2 linked regions of the Homo sapiens genome follow. The protein of the gene in region 2 interacts with the protein of the main gene of each other region in a pairwise test. Each region holds a gene or a part of one and is shown on either strand. Other genes may lie near its edges.

Region 1 (3,603 bases), on a different chromosome or scaffold from region 2:
TGGCCAAGGGGCTGCTGGGTTCCCATAGATAGGGTCCATGGGACTTTCCTGGATGGTGGCTGAACTTTCCCTGGGCAGCTGGACTTGCCTTGGCGATGGCTGTAGGTAGTCAGTGCCTACTTGGCTCCAAAGCTGGGGTTGGGCCTGGGGTGTCCCAAGCCGGCCTCTCTGGAGGCTCCTGAACCCCGGTCTCAGAGACATGACCCGGGGTGAAAGGCTGAGGGGTTCCTTCTCCCCTAGGTGCTATGTGTGGGAGGGGCCTGCGAGCCCTCTTACCCTGTGCTCCTACTCAGGCCTCACCCCAGGAGTGCCCTCCACCTCTGGGGCGGTGGGAGGCATCTGAGCAGCCTGCCCCTTCCAGGGTGGGGACGGACGGTGCCACCTCAGGCATCACCCCACGACTGGCCCCAGGGGACATGTGCTGGAGGCTCAGGGTACCTATGTGGCCTGATATCCGCCCCTCAGCTCCTCCGTCCCAGAATAGCACAGCCACAGCCACACTGGTTTAAATCATTTATCTCCATGTAGAGATTTGAGTACAAAAATAAACGGCAACAAAACAGAAGGAGTGTGAAATCCGGGGATCCACAGGGCTTCTGTCCTCCACCTTCCATGCAGCTGGGGGCTGCATCCTCTGTGGGGTGGCTTCATCCTCTGTGGGGTCTGTGGGGCCTGCTCCAAGTCATCAGCATTCCATGCCCACCTGGACCTGGTCCCAGACTTTCGGGGAAGCCCTCAGCCTGGGGCTCCTGGCACCCCCGTTGCGGCTGGGGAAGAGAGGTGTGGAATCCCCAGAGAAAGGGAAGGAAAGGCATGAGGGGCCTTCCCTGGGGGGAAGGTCACAGGCTGGGGGCTAAGATGACGGCCAGGAGGCTCAGGGCCAGCCCCAGGCTGAGGGCACTGTGGGCGAGGGCGGTGCGGGTGGGTGCAGCGTTGTGCAGCTTCTCATTGCACAGGTCCTCCTGGCAGCACTGGGTGGAGCTGGTGCCGCTGCTGACCTGGCCTTGCAGGGTGTAGCTGGGTGTGCACGACTCCGCACAGTCCTTCTTCACCAGATTCCCCCTCAGAGGCTCCACTGGGCACAGGTGAGTGTGGTCAGGCCAGGCAGCCACCTCTGCCCCCCACCTCCCCACAACCTTCCAGCCAACACCCACAACAGCCAGGGATGTCCCCCAGCCCCAGGGACACCTGGACAGATGCTACCCACCTGTGTTCGTGGTCTTGCAGAAGCGAGAGCTGGCCGGGCAGACCACAGAATGCTTGCAGTTGCTGGAGCTGGTGCACACGTGGCAGCGCAGGGTAAGGGCTGGCGGGGAGGGAGTCCGGCTCAGCGGGCCCAACAGAGGCCTCCTGGTGACTCAGCAGGGCCTGCTCCCCCACCTGCAGAGACCCCTCCTGGACAGAGGCCCTGCTGCCCTTGCCCTAGGCCCCCAAACCCGGGCTCTGGGTCCTGGCAGGGCATGTGCCCTGAGTGCAGCCTCAGGGGACATGTATTCCAGCCTGGGCCGGCTTGGAAGAGGTGTCCTGCCCTGCCCCTGTCTAGGGTGTGTTGCAAGCCTTTCCTCCAAGGTCTCAGGGAGCTCTGCGACTGCCAAGAGGACACTGGCTCTTGTCCCCACCCCAGGGGATGTCCCTGGAGGAGATGGCTATGTTTCTGAGGGCCTGACGGAGCTAAGGCCCCGGGGGCAGCCAGCTTGGCTGCTCTGAGCCTATGACAGGAAGGGCTTGGTGGCCTTTGGGCTGTCCTGGGCTGTGCTGGGGGAGACCTGGGGACCGGGAGGGGCTGGTGGCAGGGACTAGATGGCCGCTCTCCCAGTGAGAAGCATCTCAAGACAACCCCCTGCTCCACTCTCTCAGGGTCCGTGACTCCAGGAGTCAGTTCTAAGATCCTCAGATTCTGAAACATTGTAAATCTGACACTCGTTAAGATTCGGGCTCCATGTTGTTTTAAATTTGAAGAGTCTAGCACCCACAGTGTCGGGGTTCTCTGTGCCTAGATGTCGTCAGCTCCAGGCTCCTAGTATTTGGTGACCACACAGGCCACAGCCGCCCACCCGCCCGTCCCCTTGGCCCAGCCCCTCACCTGGCCCTGTAGCCACAGCCAGGGCTGCAAGGAGCAGCAATGCTGTCCTCATCTCTGATGTCGTCTGGGAGCAGTGCGGGCCCCTGCATTGCCAAGGCCTTATAGGCACGGGCTGGGCGGGGGTGGGCAGTCCGCCAGCCAGCGGCATTCTGCAGGGCTCTGTGCAAGCGTCAGCCCAGGACGGGCACCTGCCCCACCCTGCCTGGCCCACGCCCACCAGCCTGGCTGTCGCTGGGCGCTGCCCCTGCTGCCCCCCGCCAGGCAGAGGTCTGCCCTCCGCAACGGGGCCCAGTGGCCTCCTGGCCCTGCTGTTCCTGCTGCTGTGCCTCCATCTCTCCCACTTTCACTTCTCTGTCTCTGTGGGTCTTGTTCTCTCGCTGCCGTCCGTTCCTGGGTCACTTTGTCTCTGACCTGCCACCCGCTACCCCCCGCCCCCCACCCCCCACCATCCATCACCATCCTGTGTCTTTGTCCCTGCATTCCCCCCATAGTTCCCTCAATAGAGTTGCAGCCTGTGCCCGGTGCCCTGTGGGTGCCCGTGGGTGTCCAGGGCAGGGGAGGTAGGAAGGGCAGGTGCTGGTCCTACTCTCCTGGCTCTGGGCTCAGGGTTGCTGCCGGGGATGCAGAAGGTCCTTGAGCTGCAAGGGCTCGGGGTGGCTGTGGGCTGATGGGGTGTGTGAGGCAGAGGCAGAGGCAGAGGCCACTCCGAGGCAGGGAGGGCAGCTGGGGCAGCAGTGAGGTGAGCACTGGACAGAGTGAGGACTGTGAGGACCCGGCCCTCGAAGTTGCCTGGGGAGCCCTGTGGGCAGAAGGCCCGGGCTGTGGAGGCAGCAACTCCACCCTGCGTTGTGCAGGGAGAGACTGAGCCCTCCTGGTCTCCACCAGCCCTGCCTCCCGCCCTCCAGGGCCCCAGAAGCCCTCCCCGTGGGATTCCTTCCCCCACTCTCCAGGCCCCTCCTGCTACGTTGGGGGCAGCGCCATCCCGGCCACTTTGTAACTATTGCTCTAGGTGTCCCGGCTCCAGTCTCCCCAAAATCGTGAACTCTTTGGGGCTGGGCCCCAGCACCCAGGGCCTCAAAGCAGGTTCTTGGTCTGCTGCCCGTTGAGTGGAGGCCAGTCCCCGCCTTCACCCTCTTTATACTCACAGGAGGGACTTTCTTTCCCTGGAGACGGGGTCTCTGAGCACCCACCGCCTCGCGCAGGAGCCCACCTCTTGGGGCCCCCATCCACCTGCTCAGCCCAGCACGCTCTGCCGCTCGCCTGTGCTGGGCAGCACCCACCTGAGTGGTGTGGAGGGGCCCACAGACTTGCTTTGCCCCTGCCCTGGCTAGGCTGAAGGTGAGTGGGAGCCGGGGCACAGATGGAGGTCAGCCCTGGGCCCAGCCTCCTGCCGCCGCTGCCACGTGGCTGATGAACAGACAACAACAGGCCCAGGGCAGGGCAGGGCCGGTTCCGAGGAGGGTGGTCCTGGGCTGGGCTGAGGCTTTTGGGAGCACCGTGGGTACTGGGGCCAGTCAGGC
Region 2 (4,101 bases):
GAGCTGGCTAAGTCTCAACACTTAAAATACAATTTTCAAACTGCATGCTTTCTCATTTTCAATTGACATTAATGAAAATTTAGTCTTGATTAAGCCTGATTCATGCTCATTTAGCATTAAAAAACATTAGGCAAGAAATATCTCGTTTCTGAGAAATATTGCGACATTTTTTTCAAAAGTGTTTGCTGTACCTCAGCTCTAAATTTGAAGAGAAGCAATGGTTCCTCTCCCAAGCCTCTCTCTATATACATATAACATCATATATGATCCAGTAAGAAACATTTATTTTTCCAGAATTTTTTAAATTTTTATATATATAACTTCTACAAAAATTACTCTATAGTGTTCCTTAAAAGTTAGACACAAGTTTGTCATACAACCTACCAATTTCACTGTTAAGCATCTACCCAAGAGAAATGAAAACGGGTACTCACAAACACTTGAATGCAAATGTTCTCAGCAGCATGATTCATAATATTCCCATATTGGAAACAACCCAAATATCCATCCACTAGTAAATTGACAAAATGTGGTATATCCATACAATGGAAAACTATTCAGCAATAAGAAGAAATGAAATACTGATACATGCCACAACATAGCTGAACCCCAAAAACATTATGCTAAGTAAGAGAAGCCATAAGCAAAAGACCATATAGTATATCATTCCATTTATATAAAATGTTCAGAAAAGGCAAATCTATAGACTGAAAGTAGATTAATGGTTGCCTGGGAATGGGAGTGGGAACAAAGACATAATGGACATAAGGAATCTTACCAAGTGAGTAAACTGTTCTAAAACCAGATATGGTAATGGTTTTACAATTTTGGAATGTTCTAAAACCAGATATGGTAATGGTTTTACAACTTTTAGAAAATTAACAAATTTTCTAAAACTCACTGAAATATAATTTTTAAATATTATTCACCCTTAAAGGGTGAACTTTATAATATATAAATTATATCTCAATAAAGTTGTAAAAAAATGCTGTAATGCAAACTGCGTAAGAATTTAAATAATTGTAAGAACTGTGAGGAAAATTAAATTGATCTATCATTGATCTAAACAATATGTTTGCAATCGACTAAAAAGGAGGAAAAACTCTTTAACAAAAATGAAATTTGACACATTTTAAAATATTCTGCATAATGTGGTCCATTAGTCTTTGATATTTTATTGAAGAAAGTTGTGGTAAAGATAAGATTGAGAAGTCCATTACTAAAAACGTTTTCCAAAAGATTTCCTTTCCAAAGCTATACTTTCCTTCAAAATCGAATCTTTTGAACTTCCAAAACACCTTTTTAGCAAATGATCTCTTGAGATAGTGTCACTAGGGGGGCATTGACCAGCACCCGGCACACTAACAGGAAACAAGGTTTATAAACTGCTGATTTAACCAAACTTGATCCATAACCTACCCCATTTTCCGTGAGCATTATGGTCATCAGTTCTCATTTTAATAATCCAAATGCTGAGCTTTCTAAATATAAAATCCCAGGAGGATTTTTTTTGAATGTGTGGCAATGTCAGTAAGAAGGAAGGCATCTTGTGAAGAGATAAAGTGGACAGATGAATTTTGAAATCTATCTGTACACGAAGAGAAATGCAATACTCGCAATATTTCTAATTCAATACCTTTCAGTATGCAAACCACTGATAAAAGAGTTTTTTTAAAATTTTTTTTCTAGATGAACGTTTAAGTGGTCATTCGCCTCAAATCTCCACTTTCCAGTCCTGCACAGACTCCAGCTAATAACACTACCACCTGCAGGGTGTTTTGTTGTTTGTTTGTTGTTTGTTTTAGTGCTTCCCACATGCCTAGTTCACGCATGCACTTTTCTAAAGGACCCGAGTTCCGTTGGCTGCGTTCCCCGGGGAGCTCTACGAAGACCGGTCTGACCTGGCCCTCTCAGCTCCCTTGGAAGGGACCTGCTGCAAGGCAGGGTCATTTGGCTCCGAAATGCACCTTCAGGAATTTCCCCAAGGGGCTAGCATCAGCACCAACCGGAACACAGGCCCTCCGCTCCCTCAGCCCGCGACCACCTGGCACTCGTGTCCCTCCCTGCGGCCTGCCGGGGTCCTAGGAGCAGGGAAAATCCAATAGCTACGGGCGACCCTTGAGTTTACTCGGTCTACCCACCTCCATATTTTATCCAAAGAATGGACGGAGGCCAGTGAGGTGAGGTGACTTGGCTAAAGCCACACAGCCGGACGCTGGCCGAGCGGGTTAGTACTCGGGTCTCTGCTAACCCCGCGGCCGCTCGTGACTACCCGGGGCTTGGTAAGCACCGCCCAGGGGAAAGACTTGGCATTGCTGGCGCGAGAGCCGAAGGACTCAGCGACTTGTGACAGGAGGTCATCAATGGCCACCTGCAGGGCAGAGTGGGCAAAAGGCAGGTGACAGACCTCCCACGTCACGCCTGTTGGCGTGAGCGTCCTTTTCACTCTCTAAGTACCCTGACTTGTGAGTTAAACGATGGATCGGGTCGCCCAAGCGAAAGAGGCATCTGCTTCGAACTCCCCCCATATTTGTGCCAGCAGGGCAGAAAATAGGAAAGTTGCACTTACCACATCTTCCCTGGGTCAGTCTCCCCCGACTTCCCAAGTCCCACTCCTCCCTCCTCGCATAGGGACACCCACTCACGCGCCCGCTCCACCAGGTACGTACCAGCCGCGCGCAGCTGCCTGCCCTGCCGGTGCCCTGGCGCTCGCGCTCGCCCAGCGCTCTGCGGCCCGGAGCTGCGACTCGGGCTCTAGCTCGCTGCCGCCTCTACAGTCCACCGGGATGCGGCCGCGTCTGAGCTACTGGGCTGGGGCGCAGCCAGGCGGTGGCAGCTACTCGGGGGCGGAGGGAGCGGCCGCCGCGTCCCGCCCCCAGGCTACGAGCGCGGCTCCCCAGGCGGTGTCCCGCTCTCCGTGCAAACCGGGCCACCGCATCACTCCCCGGGGCACGTGCCACGGTAGCTTTTTTCTGCTGGCAGCCTGGGGCGAGCTCTTTTATCCTACTTGTGCGTTAACCACCAACTAATTATCGGTGATCGTCACACAACCCGCGTCCTCCCCGCCCGCCACTCCCAGTTCCCTTGGGCGATGATGAGGTTCTGCTAAGATTTCTGTGACGTGACTGCGGGAATTTCAATTCCCTTCCTGCTTTCCGACGTCGCATCGTGTTTTCTGTCCCTCCGGTTGTACGCGCCCTGAGCAGGGTTTGTGCTCCAGGTGTCATTAAGGTTGCCCTTTGATCTAATGTTGGCTGTTTGGAGAAGGTAGGAAGGTACACAGGCTTATCTACGCCCCGAATCTGGGTCTTCGAGTTTGTTAACAGATTATTTTAACAGATTAGGAAGCAATATGCAATGGAAACAACTTTTTGTGCAATAAAAGCAGAAAATAATGTATATCAAGTTTCACTTTCAGGTTCTCACTAAGAAAAATAAAGTCGTTACTACTAAGGTCTCACTGTGCTTTTTAAAAGCCATATTACATGGACGACGATACTGCTGATAAAATTAATTTATCTGCTTCCTGAGAAAGTGGTTTCTCACTGAAGTCTTAAAATCTCCTCTGGTCTCCTGAAACTCTTAATTAGTACTCAAAGTCTTCTCTTATCTCTAGTCTTTACTAATTTGCTCATTCATACTATGCTCTGACTTGCCACCCAAAGCCTATGACACCTGCCAATGACCACTTCCAAATTCCCTTTTTAGGCAAAAGCCTAAATATGGAAATACGAAAATATAATCAGACTAATATTTTATTCAGTGTGTGCTAATGGTAGTACAATCAAGTTCTTTAAATTATTCAATATTCATACCTCCACAATATAGTAATAATTTTCTCTATTTTCAGATAGTAAACTGAGGTTCAGCAAGGTTAGATACTTTGAACAAGGCTAAATAGCTGAGAAGATTCCAAATCAGTTTTGAACTTAGGTCTTTCTGCCTTCAGGATTGATTGACTTCCTTAAATTATACTCTGCTAATAAAGCTGTGATTTTTCTGAATTGTGATGTAGGCACATTTTGTTTTGTATTAGGTTAGTGCAAAAGTAATTGCAAAAAAGTACTGGCAAAAACTGCAGTAGCTTCTGCACCCGCCTAA

The links.
Region 1: the proteins of PKIB (region 2) and LY6D interact in a two-hybrid assay, tested with the Homo sapiens proteins (one large-scale study listed by BioGRID and IntAct).

The regions. Positions count from the first base shown.
Region 1 is NC_000008.11:142,784,382-142,787,984, forward strand, and holds LY6D (lymphocyte antigen 6D precursor), read right to left. Parts: upstream 2,159-3,603; 5' UTR 2,136-2,158; coding exon 2,084-2,135; intron 1,307-2,083; coding exon 1,208-1,306; intron 1,076-1,207; coding exon 840-1,075; 3' UTR 501-839; downstream 1-500. UniProt on the Homo sapiens protein: May act as a specification marker at earliest stage specification of lymphocytes between B- and T-cell development. Marks the earliest stage of B-cell specification.
Region 2 is NC_000006.12:122,609,104-122,613,204, reverse strand, and holds the start of PKIB (cAMP-dependent protein kinase inhibitor beta), read right to left. Parts: upstream 2,801-4,101; 5' UTR 2,670-2,800; exon of another isoform or gene 2,570-2,669; intron 1-2,569. UniProt on the Homo sapiens protein: Extremely potent competitive inhibitor of cAMP-dependent protein kinase activity, this protein interacts with the catalytic subunit of the enzyme after the cAMP-induced dissociation of its regulatory chains.